Linked DNA regions of Homo sapiens: region 2 is linked to region 1. The links come from fine-mapping of genetic effects on gene expression. A gene starts in region 1. The other region holds a variant in brackets. All regions are shown on one strand. Distances are between the middles of the regions.

Evidence for each region.
Region 2: its variant is fine-mapped to the expression of CNTRL in whole blood (TOPMed, PIP above 0.99).

Annotation. Positions count from the first base shown.
Region 1 is chr9:121,071,000-121,082,855 of GRCh38, reverse strand. CNTRL (centriolin) reads right to left here and starts at 7,901. Exons shown (of 44, transcript NM_007018.6): 1 at 7,789-7,901; 2 at 2,378-2,550. It also overlaps a transcript of C5 not described here. RefSeq lists silencers at 7,497-7,636, 7,757-7,816, 8,441-8,637 and enhancers at 7,937-8,326, 10,680-10,729.
Region 2 is chr9:121,126,294-121,138,149 of GRCh38, reverse strand. It overlaps CNTRL (centriolin), which reads right to left. Exons shown (of 44, transcript NM_007018.6): 15 at 2,168-2,344. Among named protein-coding and RNA genes, the nearest start is that of CNTRL, 57 kb to the right of the region's middle. The variant T/G (reference allele first, on the strand shown) is at 4,892.

The sequences.
Region 1 (11,856 bases):
TGGGACTACAGGCACGTGCCACCACGCCTGGCTAATTTTGGTATTTTTAGTAGAGACGGGGTTTCACCATATTGGCCAGGCTGGTCTCGAACTCCTGACCTTGTGATCCACGTGCCTTGGCCTCCCAAAGTGCTGGGATTACAAGTGTGAGCCACCACACCCAGCCCCTTTTCTATGTTTAGATGCACAAATATTTACCATGGTGCTACAACTGCCTAAAGTATTCAGTACAGTAACATGCTGTACAGGTTTGTAGTCTAGGAGCAACAGGCTATCCTATACCATCTAGGTTTGTGTAAGTACATTCTATGATGTTTGTACAATGATGAAATTGTCTAACAACGCATCTTACAGAGCAAATTCTGTCATTAAGGGACACATGACTGTATGTTAAATTAAACTAAATTTTGCCTGAAAGTGCCTCTGTACTTTAAGTCTCTACATAATGAACTGCAACCTAACTTAGAAGGTAAACTAACTGAAAGCCTAACTTAGGAGTATGTTTTTGTAATAGCTGAGTCTCAGCCAATCATAGCAGCTGAGCTTCAATCACAGGCAGTCAAGTGATCGTACCATGTTCAAATAAGGTAAACACAGAGCTATAACCAATCAAGCTATTTCTGTACCTCACTTCCCTTTTCTATCCATAAATGCTGCCTGCCTACATTGCAGAATGGATCTCTCTGAATCTCTTCTGGTTCTGAGGGCTGCCCAATTTGTGAACTATTCTTTGTTCAATTAAACTGTTAAATTTAATGTGTTGATAATTTCTCTTTTAACCTATATATTTGATGTTCCTCCTGTTTCCTATCACATAGCTCTTAAAACCTTTGGGTTCTCCACAGTGATAAGAGTGTCTTTCGTTTACTAATAAGATGACTGGTGACACCCAGACAGCTTTGGGATGGGGGCCAGTCACCAGAAAGACTAAGGCATGTTTAGAGGGTTGGGACTTTAAGCCCAACCCCACAACCTTTAAGGAGGGGAGAGCAGCTAAAATTGATTTGATAACCAGTAGCCAATGATGTGAGCAATCACGCCTACATAAGTAAGCCTCCATAAAACCCCAAAAGGACAGGGTCCAGAGAACTTCCAATTAGCTGAACATGTGGAGGTGTCTGGAAGATGGCATGCTGGCGAGAGCATGAAAACTTCATACCCCTTTCCACGTACCTTGCCCTATGCAACTCTTCCTCTGGCTGTTTATTTTGTAATATCCTTTATAATAAATGGGAAAATGTAAGTAGTATTTCTCTGAGTTCTGTGACCCACTCAAGCAAATTAATTGAACCCAAGGAGGGGGCAGTGGGAGTCCCAATTTATAGCTTGGTGGTCAGAAGTATAGGTGGCAATCTACTACTTGTAATGGGCATCTGAAGTTGGTGGCACTCTTGTGGGACTGAGTCCTTAACCTGTGGGATCTGATGCTATCTTCAGGCAGACAGTGTCAGAATTGAACTGAATAAGAGGACATGCAGCTGGTGTCCACTGAAGAAGTATCTGGTGTATGGGGCAACAACCCTTACATGTCTGATGTCACAAGTATTGTACTGTGTGGTACGGCAGTAGGAAGAACATTTTGAGTTTTTCATATCTCTATTAAAAGATAATATAACTTCACAAGCATATGGGTACATATAAGCTGTGATTATACAGAAACTTCCTGCAAACTCCCAGCTTTCTAACAGCTGGCCATAAAGAAATTAAGACTCTCATTCCATAGGGGTCCTACCCAATACCCAGGAGGAAGGAATGCTGCACAGAGAGGCCAAGAGAAATCTGGAGAGGTAGGTGTTGCTGAGTTTCCTCACTCAGTCTATTAGCGTTAGATCATACCCATTTTGTCCAATCCTATTTCTATACAGCTGTCCACACTTCACTAATCCTAAGCATAAAAACGGATAATTTTTTCTGCATTTTTTGGGTCTTCATTCTGAAGGCTCCCATGACACATAAAGCTTTGATCGAATAAATTTGCTATGCTTTTCTCTAGTCAACCTGTCTTTGTTACAGGGGTGTTGGCCATGACCTTTATGATGGGCCAGAAAGGAATTACTCCCTTTCCTCCCCTACAGAACTTATACAGTATATAAAGGAGAGATTACACTAATATAATCTATTAATATATTCAATTTTTGGAATTCCTCTTTGGATTCTGCTTTCAAACTAATTCTTAAGTCTCACAAGAAAATCGGGTCCATCGCTTCAGGTACACTTTGTTTTTATTTTCCCAGTTTGATCACTAACCTTACTCAGTAAATTTGACTCCATATGAATTTTGTCTACTTCCAAAAATTTAATGAAAAGATGATGATTGAAGTTAATTCTAAAGAATATCATACTAGTGGCTAACATTTACTGAGGGCTTACCACGCACCAAATATTGTGATATTTCGTCAGGCACGGTATGTATACTTGCAGTCCCAGTTACTCCAGAGGATGAGGCAGGAGGATTGCTTGATCCCAGGAGCTCCAGGCTACAATGTGCTATGATCAACCTTGTGACTGGCCACTGCACTGCAGCCTGGGAAACACAGGGAGCCCCTGTCTCTAAAAAACAGACAGACAAATATATGTTGTGATAAGCTCTTTATGTGTATCATCATATTGAAAGAATTGAATACAACAACTCTATGAGATAAGTGTTATTTCCCATTTTACAGATGAAGATCTTAAATAATTTGTCCAAAATTCCTTAACTAATTGGTTTAGCCAAAACTTGAAATGTGATTTAATTCAAAACCCATGTTTTTAATGACCATGTCATATAGCTATCTGAGTTTCCTGGAGTCTAGATTATGTTTCCTTTGTTCTCTATGGCCTAGCATGATGCCATGGGCGGCAGGTGCCTGTAATCCCAGCTACTTGGGAGGTTGAGGAACAAAAATCACTTGAACTGGGGAGGTGGAGGTTGCGATGAGCCAAGATCGTGCCCCTGCGCTCCACCCTGGGCAACAGAGTGAGACTTCATCTCAAAAAAACAAAACAAAAAAAATCCTGAAGGAAACCCAGAAAATTTTATACAAAGAAAGGATCTCTGATATCATGATCCGGTCTCTCAAGGTGAGTAGTTTGAAAGGAATAAAAACCCCGTCTTTTTTTGTTTTTAAAAAGTTGATTATTATTTCACATACATTACAATATAGCCAAATGCCCCATTCCAATAGCCTCATTCACTACAGGTTAAGCACTCCAAATCTGAAAATCTGAAATATTTAAATATAAATGTAAAAAATATAAACAAGTATAAAGCAAATATTCCAAAATCCGAAAAAATCCAAAATCCAAGACACTTTTGATAGCAAGCATTTTGGACAAGAGATAATCAACCTGTACTTTATTTTTATTTTTTTGGAGGCAGCGTTTCACTATGTTGTCCAGGCTGATCTCGAACTCCTGAGCTCAAGCAATCCTCCCACCTCTACCTCCCAAAGTGTTAGGATTACAGGCATGAGCTACCACACCTGGCCTTCAACCTGTACTTCAAACTGTGAACTTAAATGTATCTGTACTTTTTCCTTCATTTTCTCATATTAAACTATACATATGGATCAGAAAAACTCCCCCAAGTTACATAACTGCTATTTATGCCATTTCCACAAGGCTTTTTGGTCTAAATTTCAAGCGTGGTAAACAATTTTTGTGCCTTATAACACAATTTTGCCATGGAAAAAAGTCTTTTAGTAATTTTAATATTATGAAATACATACTTAGTCTTAGTCCCTTTTGCTATCGTAAGTGTCTTTTTGTATACTAATGAGTTGACTGATGGCTAGCCACCTCTAGGCAGCTTCAGGATCGTGGCTGGTCACTAGAAAGAGGGAGGGGAGAGGGGCTAAAGGTTGAGTTGATCACCAATGGCCAATGATGTAATCAATCAGGCCTACATAATGAAGCCTCCATAAAAAGTTAAAAGACTGGGTTTGGGGAGCCTCCAGAAAGCTGGACACAGGGAGGGTCCTGGAGGGGAATCCACCCAGAGAGGGTGTGGAAGCTCTACGCCCCTTCCCACCTGCCTTACGCTATGCATCTTTTCACCTATATCCTTTGTAATATCTTTTATAATAAACCAGTAAATGTAAGTAAGTGCTCCCTGAATTCTGTGAGCTGCTCTAGCAAATTAATCAAACCCAAGGAGGGAGTTGTGGGAACTCTGATTTATAGCTGGTCAGTCAGAAGCACAGGTAAAACTGAGGCTTACAGTTGGCATCAGAACTTGGGGGCAGTCTTGTAAGCCAGCCTTCAACCTTAGGGATGTGACGCTGTCTCCAGGTAGACAGTGTCAGAATTGAACTGAACTAGAGGACAGTCCTGTGGTGCCCACCACTGCAGAACTAACTGCTTGCTTAATGTGTGGGGGAAAATCCTACGGAATCATGTTGTGAGCGTATAGTGGGAGAAATTGAGTTTAATCTGTAGTCTCAGTAATACTATTTTTTTCTTTTTTTGAGACAGAGTCCTGCTCTGTTGCCCAGGCTGGAGTGCGGTGGTGTGATCTCGGCTCACTATAACCTCCGCCTCCCAGGTTCAAGTGATTGTCCCGCCCCAACCTACTGAGTAACTGGGATTACAGGTGCACAGCACCACGCCCGGCTAATTTTTTTTATTTTTAGTAGAGATGAGGTTTTGCCATGCTGGCCAGGCTGGTCTCAAACTTCTGACCTCAGGTGATCCACCCACCTCGGCCTCCCAAAGTGCTGGGATTACAGCCACCATGCCCAGCCCTCAGTAATACTATTGATGCTGCTAAGCTGCACTGGCATTCTCCTTCTAAATAAGGATAATACTCTAAAATTTGAGAAAAGCTAAGAGGCATGTGCTTAGGTAAAATCTTATTCCTAATTAAATGGATTAAAAGATGACATTTATTATAGTATGTATAGTACGTAGTTGGCGTTTTTTTCCCCCCTGAGGCAAGGTCTTTCTCTGTCACCCAGGCTGGAGTGTAGTGGCATGCTCATGGCTCACAGCAACCTTGCCTTCCTGGGCTCAAGTGATCCTCCTACCTCAGCCTCCTGAGTAGCTGGGACTACAGGCGCATATAACCACGCTTGGCTAATTTTTTATTTTTTGTAGAGATGGGGGGTCTCACTATAGTTCCCAGGTTGGTCTTGAACTCCTGGGCTCAAGTGATCCTCCTGCCTCAGCCTCCCAAAGTGCTGGGATTACAGGTGTGAGCCACTGTGCCCAGCCTGTAGTTTTTACATCCTAATGATCAAGACCCTTTAGGTCTCACCAGACTATCATGAGGTCCTTTATTACCTCTCCTGATTAGTAAAAGTCAGGCTTACTCATTCATAGACTTAAACCCTTGGTTGCCACAGCTTCTGTAAAGCTTGGACACTGAAACAAGATAGACGTAATCAGTCTCAGAGAATAGCTAACTCAGTGAAGTGGGCTTAGGGGTTTACAGTGTTTGAGAATGGCTGGCATTATTTCTTAGGCTACTGCCTGGAGGTGGTAAATGCTGAATTATAATTTTAATGGAGAGATGAGGATGTAGTTTGATCTAGGATGTTGTTTGCAATCACATGAACAAAGACCAAGCAAGCAATGGAAAAATGAAGACAACTGAGAGGTAGGCTAGGGCGAGTAAAGGAGCAGGATAAAGAGAAAAAAAAAGCAAATAAAGTTCAGAGCTGCAGTTGTATTTTAAAGGCTGTCTGCAGAGCAAGAGAAAGCCATTGGAATGACATGATAATCAGAATCCTACGTCCAGGCAACAAAACACTACCCATCCTGCCACCTATAAACCCAGATAGTTGCTCTGATCTAACAATTCAGTCCATCACAGCTTAGTACAGACTGCAAACTCCACCTCCATCCAGCCTTTCCTAACCTTCCTAACTTCCCATCTTCTCTGATCTCCAAATAACGCAGACCTCCTTCTGTCTCTCTACAGACTCCCTAATATGCAAATACCCATCCCCATTTATTAACCCCCATATCCCTCTCCTTAGCCCTTTAATTGGATTTCAGTACTTTCCAAGTCTACTTCATCCCATACCCTCTGACCTACTGAAATACTTTTACTCCTTAATCTTCTCCTCCTTTCAAATATCCTGATTCCGATTCCTCTGCAAAGTCTCCAGCCATTTTTCTTTCCAAAGCCAATTCCCCCATTCTGTGCTGCCCACCCACCTCTGCCTCCCATTCTTCTTTATCCCATTCTGATTGCCAATTTTCCCACAAATTCTATCCCAGTTCCCTAACACAGTAATAGTCTCCCCCATTTCTCTATGGTTCTTTCCTGTGCCCAGACTCAACATTTCTCTATCCATCCAGACTTCCCAAGCTGCTCATCTCTCTTCACCCCAGAAAATACCCTGACATCCTAATGCGTTCCAATACTCTGACCTCCAATTACTCCCCTCCCTAAACAAAATACTCAAACCTCCATCCATTCCTCTTCATCCCAACCCAACTGCCTGCCTATTTGCCTTTCCATCCTAATACTCTAGCCCCCGTATCCTTCTCCATCCTATTAAAAGCCTGAATCCCCTCTCCCATCTCTCTTCTTCTGCTCAGATACCCTAAAACTCAAGCTTCCCATCTCTTTCCATTAATTATTCAATTTTATTGAGCAACTTTTATGTAGGAAGAACCATGCTAGAATCTAAGCTCAAGATGCAGAAGATTTTATCTCCCTATTACCCATGATCTCTGCACCAAGCAGTCTCCTTCATAGCATTTTATAACCATTATTTGTGAAACTACTTGGTTGTTGCCTGTTTCTCCTTCTAGACTATAAGCTACAAGAGAGCAGAGGTTTTGTCTGTTGTTCTATAAACAATAAATATTTGTTGACTGAAGGACTGTACTAAACACTTAGACAATACCAAATTTAAATCCTCAAAGATTTAGCTGTATAGGATCAGAATTATTAACCTGATTTACAAATGGCAATGTACCTGAACAGTTAAAAGCTTGGATTCTGGAACGAAACAGCCTGAGTTCAAATTCTGATTTTCCACTTACTGTGTGATCTTAGGCAAATTACTTAACCTCTCTGGTCCTCAGTGCTATCACTTTTTAAATGGGGATGATAACCTCATACAAGTTATTTTAAATTCTAAATGAGGTTAATACGTGCAAAGTGCTTAAAACTGGATCTGACAAATAGTGAACACCCAAAAATGATTCGCAATTATTTGGACAAATGAGGAAACATGATCAGGAAGGCTCAGACACATATCCAGGGTCACAGACCTGGTTAAGTTACACAAGGTGGCAGAATTGAGGCTTCAACCCAAGTTTGTCTGGCTTCAAAATTCTCTAGTCCCTTAACGAATATAACGGAAGTGTTTGTTCTTCCCCTTCTTTTAGCATTTCGTCCCCATATCCTGTCATCTTTCTCCACGCACTGTACTCCGTCCGATACCGTGACAACCCGTCAGGACGCCCAAACTGTCCTTTCTCCCGCTCACTCCCCACAGACAGCTGGCACATCCCAGCTCTCCCCTCAGCTCAGGTGGCAGGACCCACAACCTTCTGGGCGCCGCACCCTAACTTCCACACCTCCCCACACTCTGGTTCTTCATCCCCAATCGCCCCCGCCGTCCCCACCTCTTCCCATCCAAACCTCCCTCCTTCATCCACCGCCCCACGCCCGTTCCGGGCCCTCCCCTCTTTCCCGTCCAATCCCAATTCCCAGACACGCGCCCCCGCCCCGAATCCATCCCAAGCCGGCCCACACCACGCCCGGTCCGGGCCTTCCCGCCTTTGCCGCCGGCCCCCACTGCTCGGGCCGGATGCCGGGGAACGGGCTCGGCCAGGTCTGACGCTCACCGCCTAGAAGCCGAGCCGAGCAGTCCCGCAGGCTGAGGTAGAGCGGGAGAAGTTCGGGCTCTTTCCTCAGGGGCCCAGCGGCGCGGCAGCCATTTTGTTGTGTTGTGCCGGTTGCCGAGGGGCCGCGCGCGCGTGGTCGGGGCTAGTCTCAGCCACGCCCCTCTCCCTCTCCGGTACTGTTGGAAGGGACGCGGAGGCGTTTCCCGCCTCTTTTGCAGCCAGCGCGCTAGGATGCCGGGGAGTCTTGGGCGCGAGGCTTCCGGCCGCGCGGGGCCGACGGGATGCGGTGCCTTCGCCTTCGGATTGCGTTGCAGGTGAAGTGTCGGGTGCAGAGTCAGGGGGAGCCGAGGTTTCATGCGGCAGCTGCCCGCAGTGCTGTGGCCTTCGCTGAGACAAAGCTGCCGCCGCCACCCTCTGAAACACGGACACGCTTCTCAGGGCCTGTGTCCGAGGACGGCCTGAGGCACCGGCGCAGCGCCTCCCCGGCCTCCCCCACTTCTGATGCTTGCGCGCTATGAGCGAGTGTTCTTATCAGCACACTTCTCTCTGACAGTCGTATCTAAAGCGAATTCCCTCCAGGGACCGAACTGCCCAGGCTCGGATGAACCTCAAAGCGGACGCAGCCTGGGCTCCAGCTGTCGCGTGAGGTTCAGGGAGCTTGGGAATCCTAGGCAGAGGATGTTCCTCTGATTGCTACAAGGGAGTTAAAGCAAGAAGCACTTGCACAGGCTTCATCTGGGGCTTGCCCATGAGCACGGCGTTCACGACATGCATTCAACAGATATTTTAAAGAATTTAGCAGATACTGGGCTGGATGCTAGGGAAACACTGAAGTTTTTTTTAAAGTGTTATCACCATTGACGCCTTTCACTCCAGTAGCCTCCCGTTTTGAAGGTATACCCTGGACCATGTTACCATCAGAGGCTGCACCCGCTCCAGAAATCCCCAGTGCAATCGCTCCCCATCCTTGACTATAATCCTATCATCTTAGCAGCGTGCCTGCTCAAAAGACCCCTATGCCAGCGTATTTCTAAACTTCCTTGCGTCTTCCAGTCCCTTGTTCTTACCATTTTCTCGCGATCATTCTATCCTGTCTTCATTTCCTTTCTTCACTACAGAGTTTATAGGCCACCTGTATAACACTTTTAGAAACTCCCTCTCTCTCTGTGTCTCAGTTTCCTTATCTATGAAATGAGGTCCTTTTACCTATTAACACTTCCTACAGTTTTCCTGATAATTATAAAAGTGAATCCTGGCCGGGCGCTGTGGCTCATGCCTGTAATCCCAGCACTTTGGGAGACCAAGGTGGGAGGATCACTTGAGGTCAGGAATTCAAGATCAGCCTGGCCAACAAGGTGAAACGCCGTCTCTACTAAAAATACAAAAATTACCCGGGCGTGGTGGCGCACGCTTGTCATCCCAGCTGCTTGAGAGGCTGCAGGAGGATCGCTTGAACCCGGGAGGCGGAGGTTGCAGTGAGCCGAGATCGCGCCACTGCACTCCAGCCTGGACGACAGAGCGAGACTCCATCTCAAAAAAAAAAAAAAAAAAAAAAAGTCCAGTTTTCCTGATAATTATAAAAGTGAATCTCTGTGAAAGAACTTAGAACAGTGAGGGACCCATAGTAAGTTCTCAATATGTCTTAGATATTTCATTATTAGACAAAGGTTACCCAGAAGCAATACTTCTTTCTACGCCCAAAAGAAGAGTTTAGGCAAGGAGTAGGGAGGTGGGGAAGAATTTGCTTGGCAAAGGGAACAACTTGTGCAAACCCCGGAAGCGGGGGAAAAGAGCTTGGCAATGTGCTGAATGTTAAGTAATTCAGTGTGGCTGGAACAAAACATGAGTATGGAAACATGAAGTAGTTCAGTATGGCTTGTGCAAAAATCTGGGGTGGAGAAGCTAAATCTGGAAAAGGGACCATATTATAAGCAGTATTAGGCACTTCATTTTTCCTTAAGGCAGAGATGGCTTCACCTCTATAGGAAATTCAGGGGACGTCCAACAGGGAATAAGCTGCAATAAACATGGGGATGCAGATGTGTCTTTGATTTACTTTGATTTACTGATTTCCTTTTCCTTTTACTTAAATGTGATTCCCATTGACATTTAAGTGAATGGTGCTGTCCTCTCCCCAACTATTTACACGACACAGAACGAAGCCCTTGGAGTTTAAACGCAGAATTTTTGAAAAGCTCCACTTAAGAGGAGATTACATTCATTTTTTTTCTTTTCTTTTTTTTTTTTTTTTTTTTAATTTTTTGAACAGAGTCTGGCTCTGTCACCCAGGCTGGAGTGCAGTGGCAGGATCTCGGCTCAGTGCAACCTCCGCCTCCCGGGTTCAAGCGATTCTCCTGCCTCAGCCTCCCGAGGAGTTGGGATTACAGGCACGCACCACCAAGGCCAGCTAATTTTTGTATTTTAGTAGAAACAGAGTTTCACCATGTTGGTCAGGCTGGTCTCAATCTCCTGACCTCACGTGATCCGCCCGCCTCGGCCTCCCAAAGTGCTGGGATTACAGGCGTGAGCCACCGCGCCCTGCCGAGATTACATTCATTTTTAATCGAAGTTCAGGTGATATTTATTAGATTGGAATGTGTACGTTGCTGAGTTTCAGTTCTATTTGCATATGTTTTGACACCCATCGTTTCGGTTTCTTGTACCCAGAAACTTAGATTTATTGCGTAACCTCATTGCTGTGTCCCTCAAAGTCTGTAATGGTATTCACGTGGGATCCATTATCAAGCCGTGGTGTGCTGATGTAGTTCATTATCAATCATATTAGTATCAATTAATAGCCATCAAATATACATAAAAAGTCCAGAGGGTGGCGCAAAACACTTTTCTCTTGGGTGATCTCTCAGTCCGTATCCAGTTAGCCGCGGATGGGCACTCACCGGTCCCATGTTGCCCCCTTTTCCTCCTCATACAGACCTCTGCTGGTGTCTAGCATCATCTCTAACGAAGCTAGAGACTTCAAAGGAGAGACCTTTCTCCAGTTAATTTGAATATTAACTGTCTCTCTTAGCATGCTAAAAGAACTTCCTTCTCCAAAGCAGAAGTGAGAATACGAAAGTAACGCAGACAACTCGCGTTCCACACTATTTTTCTTTATCTGATATTATGAAGAATGTACTCTGAGTTGCATTTACAATACAAATATTAGCCACGTCAGGGTGACCAAGCTTTTACTCAGTCTTTTTTCCAAATGATAGCAAAGCTATTCTGTTTAAACTTCCCTCAGCTTTTTGCAACCCAGTTTAATCATTTTGCGAATTTGTTTTAGAGAAGAAACAGACTAGTTTGTCAGACAGGGATGGCAACTTTCATTATTGCCATTTCTTTCTGTGACTGGCCAGTGTGATTTTGTTGTTTTGTTTTTTAAGACAAGGTCTCACTCTGTCACCCAGGTTTCAGTGCAGTGACACAATCATAACTCACTGCAGCCTTGACTTCTCAGACTCAAGTGATCCTCCTCCCTCAGCCTCCCAAATAGCTCAGTCTATAGGTGTGCACCACCACACCTAGCTAATTTTTAAACTTTTTGTAAAGATGGGGTCTTGCTGTGTTGCCCAGGCTGGTCTTAAACTCCTGGGCTCAAGCGATCCTCCCACCTCAACCTCCCAAAGTGCTGGGATTACACGCATGAGCCAGCATGCCCAGCCTGATTTTTTTTTAATTTTTATTCATTTATTTTTTTTTGTTTTTGTTGGTGTGTTTTGTTTTTTGTTCTTGTTTTTGTTTTTTTGAGACAGAGTCTCACTCTGTTGCCCAGGCTGGAGTGCAGTAGCACGATCATGGCTCACTGCAACCTCCACCTCCAGGGTTCAAACAATTTTTGTGCCTTAGCCTCCCCAGTAGCTGTGATTACAGGTGTGTGACTCCACGCCCAGCTATTTTTGTGTATGTGTGTGTATTTTTAGTACAGACAGTGCTTCACCATGTTGATCAGGCTGGTCTTCAACTCCTGGCCTCAAGTATCCGCTTGCCTTGGTCCCCCAAAGTGCTAGGTTTGTAGGTGTGAGTCACCATACCCAACCTTAATTTTTATTTTTAAATGACATGTAG
Region 2 (11,856 bases), 55 kb before region 1:
CACCTAAACTCTATCTCAGAAAAGAGATTCTGGATCAGAATCTCTAGAGTGGGTGGGGCCAAGGAATCTGTATTTATCAAGCATCACAAGTGAGTTCATGCAACTAAAGTTTACCAATCAGAGATCTGTAGATCTTCAGATCAGAGACAGGAGATCTGTTATGCTTCATATTCTCAATGTGTGGTTTGAAGACCAATCCTGGCAGTCTTGGTGCTGAGGGAGGGGGAATGTCCCTTTCAATACCAAGTGAATTGGTGAAAAGGCCAGGCTCTTAAAATAATTTTGTCAAGACTTATGAGAAGAAAATAAAAGCCAATCAAAGTACAAAGGACAGTGTATTTCAAGCTAGTACAGTCTGGCTTGAAAAGAGGAGAATTTATTAAGGAAAATGCCATCTAGAAATTTTATTTATTATTATTTTAAAATATTTACTGTTATTTTAATTGTTTTCCTAAAACCTCCTGATTTCTGAGACTCTGATCTTGTCAACTATACTTCTACAAAACTCGGTACTCGAGAAATACAATCCTGACAACTGTCAAGTGATGATCTGATATCTCATAAGTAAAGAAATATACATAATTACTATAATAAACCAGATATATTTCTAGTTCCTTTTCTAACCATATGAATTATTTTTACATGCATTCCTGAGATTCAAAATATCTTATTTATTTCATTTTCATCAAATAGGCACATATTGACGCTTCTCATATGCCAGGCACAGAAAAAGCAGAAACAAACAGATACAATTTGGGCATTCACTGAGCTCTGAGTCTAGCTGGGGTAAAACAAACAGATCATCTAGGAGCATCTAAACAGATGATCATCATATGCATGATAAATACCTTTACTGTGCACAGGTTATAGGAAAACCAAAGTAGAGTCCTGAACCCAGATTTTCAGCAGGCAGAAAGGAAAGGTTGAGGTGGGCTTCCTGAAAGAAGATGCAGCTCATCTGGCTAATAAATTGTATTTTTAATCTGATAAAGAATATATTACAACTGGCCTCTGCCTGCCTCTCTGCCTTTACCTCTCATTCTCTTTCCTCACTCCTCTCCCTGCTCCTGGCATCCTGGAGGCATACGTTCAGCACTTCAAATGTACTATATGCTCTCTCTCCTCACCTCTCTGCCTAGAATACAAATACCTTACCTTTACTCCTTTCACCCTGTCCCCTCTGCGTGGCCAAATCCTACTCATCCATCAGCCATCAGCTGAAACATCATTTCTGTAGGGTGGTCTTCCCTGACTACTTCCTCCTTGGCCAAAGAATCCTGTCCCTTTCTTTCTTCCATACCTGTTTCACTTGCTGGACTAAAGTTTACCAATCAGAGATCTGTCAGCTCCACAGGATGGTGACCATGTCTGTGCTTTCCCTAGAGAATCCACAGTACCTGGCCCTCAATGGCCAATCAATAAATATTTATTGGATATGTTTTCTGTAACTTGCAAGTATAATTTAAACTAGTGGATCTTTCAACCAACCCTAAAAGGAGACAGCAAACTACAACTTATCATCAACCTAAAAGAGGTCTCGGCCAGGCACGGTGGCCCATGCCTGTAATCCCAGCACTTTGGGAGGCTGAGGTGGGTGGATCGCCTGAGGTCGGGAGTTTGTAGACCAGCCTGACCAACATGGTGAAACCCCATCTCTACTAACATACAAAAAATTGGCCAGGCATGGTGGCGCGCACCTGTAGTCCCAGCTACTCAGGAGGCTGAGGCAGGAAAATCACTTGAACCCAGGAGGCGGAGGTTGCAGTGAGCCGTCATCATGCCACTGTACTCCAGCCTAGCAACAGAGCAAGACTCTGTCTCAAAAAAAAAAGTCCTTAAACCTGTTCTAAGAAGGAAAAACTAGCATTTATTGAGTATCAACTGTCAGGTGCTTTCATGTCCATTATCTCATTTATCTTCCCCATAAGCCATTTTACACAGGAGGAAAAGGCTGGGAGGCTCAGAGCTATGAACTGATTTGCCCGTGTTCACACAGGGGTAGTTATTAGCACTCACAATGTCTGACTCCAAAATTCTGCCTTTCCCATCACTCCATATATATTGTATGAAAAAACGCTTAATTTTAAATTAAGACATAAATAAAAGAAGGATGATATCTTAAGGCACAGGGTCCTTAGTTTGCAGTTGGCTTCATGCTCCTACTTACCTGGGTAAGTCTTGTTACTTTTTCCAACTCTTCCTTGAGCTGGTTGGCTTCAGCATCCCTTAGGTTTAGCCGAGCCTCTAGCTCAGCTTCATAGGCACTGAGATCTCCCTGGGTCTGCTGCAAAGATGCATTCACCTCATGCTGCTCTTGGAGGGCACTTTCTAGCTCTGCAAGCTCCTAGAAAGATTCAGTGGGTTTAACTATGGAACCCTCACTGTGCTGCTTAAGCATTTGCAAGGCATTATAAGTAACTTGAGCACTGTAAACCAAATGCTGGCCAGCTACTGATGCCTGCCACAAAGTTTTCAGTAGCAATATGACGAAGCCTCAGGTTGTGCATATCCTGGTTGGAAAACAAAACCCTGGCTAAATGTAATCAAGAAAGTCAGTAAGCTCCCAACATATTGTTTTTCAAAGGGACCAGTTCTGTGATACTTATGAGTCTAAAAACATAAGGAGGAAGAAAGGAAGGAAAAAAAGAGTAGGATAAGATTTAATGCTTATTTTTCATCTGATGTTGGACAAAATGTTTTCATATTCATTATTTCATTGTATCTTCACAATAACTGTATAAGGCAACTTGCGGTTTTACAGATGAGGAATTGTAGAATGAATATCTAAGTAAATTGCACAGGGCTATGTAGCTAGAAAAAGGATAGTCAGCATACAAATGTAGATCTCCGACTCCAAAGCCCATACTCTCTCTATTAAACCATAGCATGTTCATTTATCAGAAGAACAAAATGGGACCGGCACTCTCTAATATTAAGGATGATAAGAGTACCTTAAATGAGTGCTAACAAGAATATAAGTACATATTTATTAGCATACCATGGTTCTGATTCATTTTAGTCCATTTGTGTTTTGTGATTAAACCTTATCTCTTTCATCTATTTACTTGGGATCAAACTATTACAGATTAAAGAGGAGGATTCTACGATGAGAACTTCTACAAAAGAATTGTCCAAAAACCACTTGGCAATTCAATCATTTGGGCTGCTTGTTTAAAATATAGATACTACATATAACCAACCAAAGATTATTATCCAGAATATGTAAAGAATTCCTACAAATCTTTAAGAAAAGGCAGAGACAGTTCAACAAAAAATAGAATAGGGAATTCACTCAAGAGGAAACTTGAACAGCAAATGAAAGGTGATCAGCCTCTCCAGTAACCAGGGGAAAATGCAGTTAACTTAAGATACTATTTTACATAGAACATAGAGATACAAGTTAAACACACCATGAGGAAACAATCAGTCAAACCCAGAACGTGGTTCAATCTACAGAATACCAGCCTGGATTTCACACACGCATGTGCACACACACACACATTCTTGGGACAATCAAGAAAATCTGAATATGGTTCAGATATTAGAGGACCTTAGGGCCGGGTACAGTGGCTCATGCCTGTAATCCCAGCACTTTGGGAGGCCAAGGCGGGTGGATCACGAAGTCAGGAGATTGAGACCATCCTGGCCAACATGGTGAAACCTATCTCTACCAAAACACACACACAAAAAAATTAGCCAGGCGTGGTGGCACACGCCTGTAGTCCCAGCTACTTAGGAGGCTGAGGCAGCGGAATCACTTGAACCTGGGAGGCGGAGGTTGCAGTGAGCGAAGATCATGCCACTGCATTCCCAGCCTGGTGACAGAGCAAGACTCCATCTCAAAAAAAAAAAAAAATAATAATGATATTAGAGGACATTAGGGAATTACCGTCATTTTTCTTAGGTGTAATAATGATATCGTAGTGATGCAGGAAAATGCTCTTAAAAAAATGTGTGTTGAAGGGATGATGTTATGATATCTACAACTTTCTAATGAGCAAAGGAAAAAAGTATGTGTCTATGAGAAAGAGAAAATAAATAAATCAAAATATTTATTGAATCCAAGAGGTTCACAGATGTTCACCAAACTATTTGTTCAACTTTCTTGTAACTGTAAACATCTTCACAATAGAAAGATGGAAAGAAGTCCTTTAAAGCTCAGCAGACTGGCAAACATGAAGTCTGATAAAATACTGAATTTCCTAAATTTGATAATTATTCTGTGTTTATGTTAGAAAATGTCCTTGTTCATAGGAAATACATACTGAAATATTTAGAAGCAAAGGAGCATGATGTCTACAACTGATTTCCAAATGGTTCAGGAAAAAAAATCTGTATAAAAATATATATAAAATTGAATCCCGTTCCGAGATGGCCAAATAGGAACAGCTTGGTCTGCAGCTCCCAGCGTGATCGACGCAGACGACGGGTGATTTCTGCATTTCCAACTGAGGTACCTGGTTTATCTCATTGGCACTGATTGGACAGTGGGTGCAGCCCATGGAGGGCGACCCGAAGCAGGGCAGGGCATCGCCTCACCCAGGAAATGCAAGGCGTCGGGGGATTTCCCTTTCCTAGCCAAGGGAAGCCGTACATTCACAGAAGACAGTACCTGGAAAAACAGGACACTCTCACCCAAATACTGTGCTTTTCCAATGGTCTTAGCAAACAGCACACCAGGAGATCATATCCCACACCTGGCTCAGCAGGTCCCATGCTCACAGAGCCTTGCTCACTGCTAGTGTAGCAGTCTGAGATAGACCTTGGAGGCAGCAGCCTGGCAGGGGGAGGGGCGTTCACCATTGCTGAGGCTTGAGTAGGTAAACACAGCAGCCAGGAAGCTCGAACTGGGCGGAGCCCACCGCAGCTCAGCAAGACCTCTGCCTCTACA[T/G]GTAGACTCCACCTTTAGGAGCAGGGCATAGCTGAACAAAAGGCAGCAGAAACTTCTGCAGACTCAAACGTCCCTGTAGGACAGCTCTGAAGAGAGCAGTGGTTCTCCCAGCACAGTGTTTGAGCTCAGAGAACGGACAGACTGCCTCCTCAAGTGGGTCCCTGACCCCCGTGTAGCCTAACTGGGAGACACCTCCCAGTAGGGGCCAACTGACACATCATACAGGCGGGTGCCCCTCTGGGAAGAAGCTTCCAGAGGAAGGATTAGGCAGCAATATTTGCTGTTCTGCAGCCTCTACTTGTGATACCGAGGCAAACAGGGTCTGGAGTGGACCTCTAGCAAACTCCAACAGACCAGCAGCTGAGGGACCTGACTGTTAGAAGGAAAACTAACAAACAGAAAGGAATAGCCTTAACATCAACAAAAAGGACATCCACACCAAAACCCCATCTGGAGGTAGACCAAAGACCAAAGGCCAAAGGTAGATAAAACCACAAAGATGGGGAGAAACCACAGCAGAAAAGCTGAAAATTCTAAAAACCGAGCGCCTCTTCTCCTCCAAAGGATGGCAGCTTCTCACCAGCAACAGAACAAAGCTGGATGGAGAATGACTCTGATGAGCTGACAGAAGTAGGCTTCAGAAGGTCAGTAATAACAAACTTCTTCAAGCTAAAGGACGATGTTTGAACCCATTGAAAGGAAGCTAAAAACCTTGAAAAAAGATTAGACGAATGGCTAATTAGAATAAAGAGTGTAGAGAAGACCTTAAATGACCTGATGGAGCTGAAAACCATGGCATGAGAACTACGTAACACATGCACAAGCTTCAGTAGCCAATTTGATCAAGTGGAAGAAAGGGTATCAGTGACTGAAGATCAAATTAACGAAATAAAGCAAGAAGAGAAGTTTAGAGAAAAAAGAGTAAAAAGAAATGAACAAAGCCTCCAAGAAATATGGGACTATGTGAAAAGACCAAATCTACGTTTGAATGGTGTACCTGAAAAGTGACAGGGAGAATGGAACTAAGTTGGAAAACACTCTTCAGGATATTATCCAGGAGAACTTCCCTAACCTAGCAAGGCAGGCCAACATTCAAATTCAGGAAATACAGAGAACACCACAAAGATACTCCTCGAGAAGAGCAACTCCAAGACACATAATTGTCAGATTCCCTAAGGTTGACATGAAGGAAAAAATGTAAGGGCAGCCAGAGAGAAAGGCTGGGTTACCCACAAAGGGAAGCCCATCAGACTAACAGCAGATCTCTCAGAAACTCTACAAGCCAGAAGAGAGTAGAGGCCAATATTCAACATTCTTAAAAGAAAATAATTTTCAACCCAGAATCTCATATTCAACCAAACTAAGCTTCATGAGTGAAGGAGAAATAAAATCCTTTACAGACAAGCAAATGCTGAGAGATTTTGTCACCACCAGGCCTGCCTTACAAGAGCTCCTGAAGGAAGCACTAAACATGGAAAGGAACAACCCGTACCAGCCACTGCAAAAACATGCCAAATTGTAAAGACCATCAATGCCAGGAAGAAACTGCATCAACTAACGGACAAAATAACCAGCTAGCATCATAACAACAGGATCAAATCCACACATAACAATATTAACCTTAAATGTAAATGGGCTAAATGCCCCCAATTAAAAGACACAGACTGGCAAATTGGATAAAGAGTCAAGACCCATCAGTGTGCTATATTCAGGAGACCCATCTCATGTGCAGAGACACACATAGGTTCAAAATAAAGGAATGGAGGAAGATCTACCAAGCAAATGGAAAGCAAAAAAAAGCAGGGCCTGCAATCCTAGTCTCTGATAAAACAGACTTTAAACCAACAAAGATCAAAAGCGACAAAGAAGGGTATTACATAATGGTGAAGGGATCAATTCAACAAGAAGGGCTGACTATCCTAAACATATATGCACCCAATACAGGAGAACCCAGATTCATAAAGCAAGTCCTTAGAGACCTACAAAGAGACTTAGACTCCTACACAATAATAATGGGAGACTTTAACACCCCACTGTCAATATTAGACAGATCAACAAGACAGAAGGTTAACAAGGATATCCAGGAATTGAACTCAGCTCTGCACCAAGCAGACCTAATAGATATCTACAGAATTCTCCACCCCAAATCAACAGAATATACATTCTTCTCAGCACCACATCTCACTTATTCCAAAATTGACCACATAGTTGGAAGTAAAGCACTCCTCAAAAAATGTAAAAGAACAGAAATCACAACAAACTGTCTCTCAGACCACAGTGCAATCAAATTAGAACTCAGGATTAAGAAACTCACTCAAAACCACTCAACCACATGGAAACTAAACGACCTGCTCCTAATGACTACTGGATACACAATGAAATGAAGGCAGAAATAAAGATGTTCTTTGAAACCAATGAGAACAAAGACACAACATACCAGAATCTCTAGGACACATTTAAAGCAGTGTGTAAAGGGAAATGTATAGCACTAAATGCCCACAAGAGAAAGCAGGAAAGATCTAAAATCAATACCCTAACAACACAACTAAAAGAACTAGAGAAGCAAGAGCAAACACATTCAAAAGCTAGCAGAAGGCAAGAAACAACTAAGATCAGAGCCAAACTAAAGGGGATAGAGACACAAAAAACCCTTCAAAAGAATCAGTGAATCCAGGAGCTGGTTTTTTGAAAAGATCAACAAAATAGATAGACCGCTAGCAAGACTAACAAAGAAGAAAAGAGGGTAGAATCAAATAGATGCAATAAAAAATGATAAAGAGGGTATCACCACCAATCCCACAGAGATACAAACTACCATCAGAGAATACTATAAACACCTTTATGCAAATAAACTAGAAAATCTAGAAGAAATGGATAAATTCCTGGACACATACACCCTCCCAAGACTAAACCAGGAAGAAGTTGAATCTCTGAATAGACCAATAACAGGATCTGAAATTGAGGCAATAATTAATAGCCTACCAACCAAAAAAACTCCAGGACCAGATGGATTCACAGCTGAATTCTACCAGAGGTACAAAGAGGAGCTGGTACCATTCCTTCTGAAACTCTTCCAATGAATAGAAAAAGAGGGAATCCTAACTCATTTTATGAGGCCAGCATCATCCTGATACCAAAGCCTGGCAGAGACACAACAAAAAAAGAGAATTTTAGACCAATATCCCTGATGAATATCGATGTGAAAATCCTCAATAAAATACTGGCAAACCGAATCCAGCAGCACATCAAAAAGCTTATCCACCACGATCAAGTCGGCTTCATCCCTGGGATGCAAGGCTGGTTCAACATACACAAATCAATAAACATAATCCATCACATAAACAGAACTAATGACAAAAACCACATGATATCTCAATAGATGCAGAAAAGGCCTTCAACAAACTTCAATTGCCCTTCATGCTAAAAACTGTCAATAAACTAGGTATTGATGGCACGTATCTCAAAATAATAAGAGCTATTTATGACAAACCCACAGCCAATATCATACTGAATGGGCAAAAACTGGAAGCATTCCCTTTGAAAACTGGCACAAGACAGGGATGCCCTCTCTCACCACTCCTATTCAACATAGTGTTGGAAGTTCCGGCCAGGGCAATCAGAAAAGAGAAAGAAATAAAGGGTATTCAATTAGGAAAAGAGGAAGTCAAATTGTCTCAGTTTGCAGATGACATGATTGTATATTTAGAAAACCCCATCGTCTCAGCCAAAATCTCCTTAAGCTGATATGCAACTTCAGCAAAGTCTCAGGATACAAAAATCAATGTGCAAAAATCACATGCATTCCTATACACCAATAATAGACAGAGAGCCAAATCGTGAGTGAACTCCCATTCACAATTGCTACAAAGAGAGTAAAATACCTAGGAATCCAACTTACAAGGGATGTGAAGGACGTCTTCAAGAACTACAAACCACAGCTCAACAAAATAAAAGAGGACACAAACAAATGGAAGAACATTCCATGCTCATGGGTAGGAAGAATCAATACCGTGAAAATGGCCATACTGCCCAAGGTAATTTATAGATTCAATGCCATTCCCATCAAGCTACCAATGACTTTCTTCACAGAGTTCGAAAAAACTACTTTAAAGTTCATATGGAACCAAAAAAGAGCCTGCATTGCCAAGACAATCCTAAGCAAAAAGAACAAAGCTGGAGGCATCACGCTACCTGACTTTAAACTATACTACAAGGCTACAGTAAACAAAACAACATGGTACTGGTACCAAAACAGATATATAGACCAATGGAACAGAACAGAGACTGCAGAAATAAATAACACCACACATCTACAACCATCTGATCTTTGACAAACCTGACAAAAACAAGAAATGGGGAAAGGATCACTAATAAATGGTGCTGGGAAAACTGGCTAGCCATATGTAGAAAGCTGAAACTGGATCTCTTCCTTACACCTTATACAAAAATTAATTCAAGATAGATTAAAGACTTACATGTTAGACCTAAAACCATAAAAATCCTAGAAGAAAACCTAGGCAATACTATTCAGGACATAGGCATGGGCAAGGACTTCATGACTAAAACACCAAAAGCAATGGCAACAAAAGCCAAAATAGACAAATGGGATCTAATTAAACCAAAGAGCTTCTGCACAGCAAAAGAAACTACCATCAGAGTGAACAGGCAACCTACAGAATGGGAGAAAATTTTTGCAATCTGCTCATCTGACAAAGGGCTAATATCCAGAATCTACAAAGAACTTAAACAAATTTACAAGAAAAAAACAACCCCATCAAAAAGGGGGCAAAGGATACGAATAGACATTTCTCAAAAGAAGACATTTATGCAGCCAACAGACACATGAAAAAATGCTCATCATCACTGGCCATCAGAGAAATGCAAATCAAAACCACAATGAGATACCATTTCACACCAGTTAGAATGGTGATCATTAAAAAGTCAGGAAACAACAGATGCTGGAGAGGATGTGGAGAAACAGGAATGCTTTTACACTGTTGGTGGGAGTGTAAACTAGTTCAACCTTTGTGGAAGACAATGTGGCGATTCCTCAAGGATCTAGAACTAGAAATACCATTTGACCCAGCGATCCCATTACTGGGTATATACCCAAAGGATTATAAATCATGCTACTATAAAGACACATGCACACATGTGTTTATTGCGGCACTATTCATAATAGCAAAAACTTGGAACCAACCCAAATGTCCATCAACGATAGACTGGATTAAGAAAATGCAGCACATATAAACCATGGAATACTATGCAGCCATAAAAAAGGATGAGTTCATGTCCTTTGCAGGGACATGGATGCAGCTGGAAACCATCATTCTTTGCAAACTATCACAAGGACAGAAAACCAAACACCGCATGTTCTCACTCATAGGTAGGAACTGAATAATGAGAACACTTGGACACAGGGCAGGGAACATCACACACCGGGGCCTGTCGTGGGGTGGGGGGAGGGGGGAGGGATAGCATTAGGAGATATACCTAATGTAAATGACGAGTTAATGGGTGCAGCAAACCAACGTGAAACATGTATACCTATGTAACAAATCTGCATGTACCCTAGAACTTAAAGTATAATAATAATTAAAAAGTATATAAAATCATGTAGAAATTACATATGAGGAGATAAAGCAAATGTGTTAAAATAGTAATTGGTGACTCTCGGTGAAAGGCAAATGTGAGTTATTTGTATTCCTCTTGCAACTTTCCTGCAAGTTTGGAGTTATTTCAAAATATAAGCTTTAAAAAAAAGTTGGACAACACTACAGCGTTGGCAAGGATGTGGCAAGAATGGTAGCCCCCACATTGCTGGTGGGAGTAGAAGCTGATAAACTCACTATGAAAAGTAATTTGACAATATCTACTGAACTTAATGAAGGATGGACATACTCTGACCCACAGTTCTGCTTCTGAGCATAGTCCCCATGTGTTCAAGATGTGTGCAGGAATGTTATGCTCAGCATTGTTTGCAATAGCATAACACTGGAAATCACCTAAATGCACCCCAAAAAGAGAAGGAATAAATAATAAATTTGTGGTATGTCCATAAAGCAGGATGGTACATATATCAGTAAAAATGAACAAAGTAGAACTACATCTATCAGTGTGCATAATTCTCGAAAACATAGGCCAGGCGCTGTGGCTCACACCTGTAATCCGAGCACTTTCAGAGGCCAAGGCAGGCGGATCACCTGAGGTCGGGAGTTCGAGACCAGCCTGACCAACATGGAGAAACCCCATCTCTACTAAAAATACAAAATTAGCCGGGCAGGTGGTGAATGCCTGTACTCCCAGCTACTCGGGAGGCTGAGGCAGGAGAATCGCTTCAACCCAGGAGGCGGAGGATGCAGTGAGCCGAGATTGCGCCACTGCACTCCAGCCTGGGCAACAAGAGCGAAAATTCATCTCAAAAAAAAACCAAAACAAACAAACAAAAACATAAACATGAAGGAAGAAAGAAAGTGGCCAAATATGTACACTATGATACATTTTGTATAAGTCTTAAAATCAAGGAAAATACTATATATTGCTTATGGATGTTTACATATATAATAAAAGAATAGAGGTGCAGGGAAATAATAACCATATTCAGAACTTTGTTACTTCTGGAAAGGAGTAGACAGAGGATTTCAAATGTACCTATAATGTTTTATTTCTTAAGCTGGGTTGTCAGTACATGATGTTAAATATTATTTGTGATTTTTTAAATATGCCTGAGATATTTCATAATATTAAAATATATTAATTCAATTTCTGGAGCCAGCTCTACTGAACAAGAAGTTTGGAAATCTCTAGTTCTCATGTATGATAACATTTTCCAAACAACTAAAATAGAGCAAGGGAAATCTCCAAACGAATGTGCAACAAATCAGGTTCATAAGGATATAATTTAAAACAATATGTCTGTTTTGTTAGCTATAAAATAATGTTAAAATTATCCAGTAACAACAAGA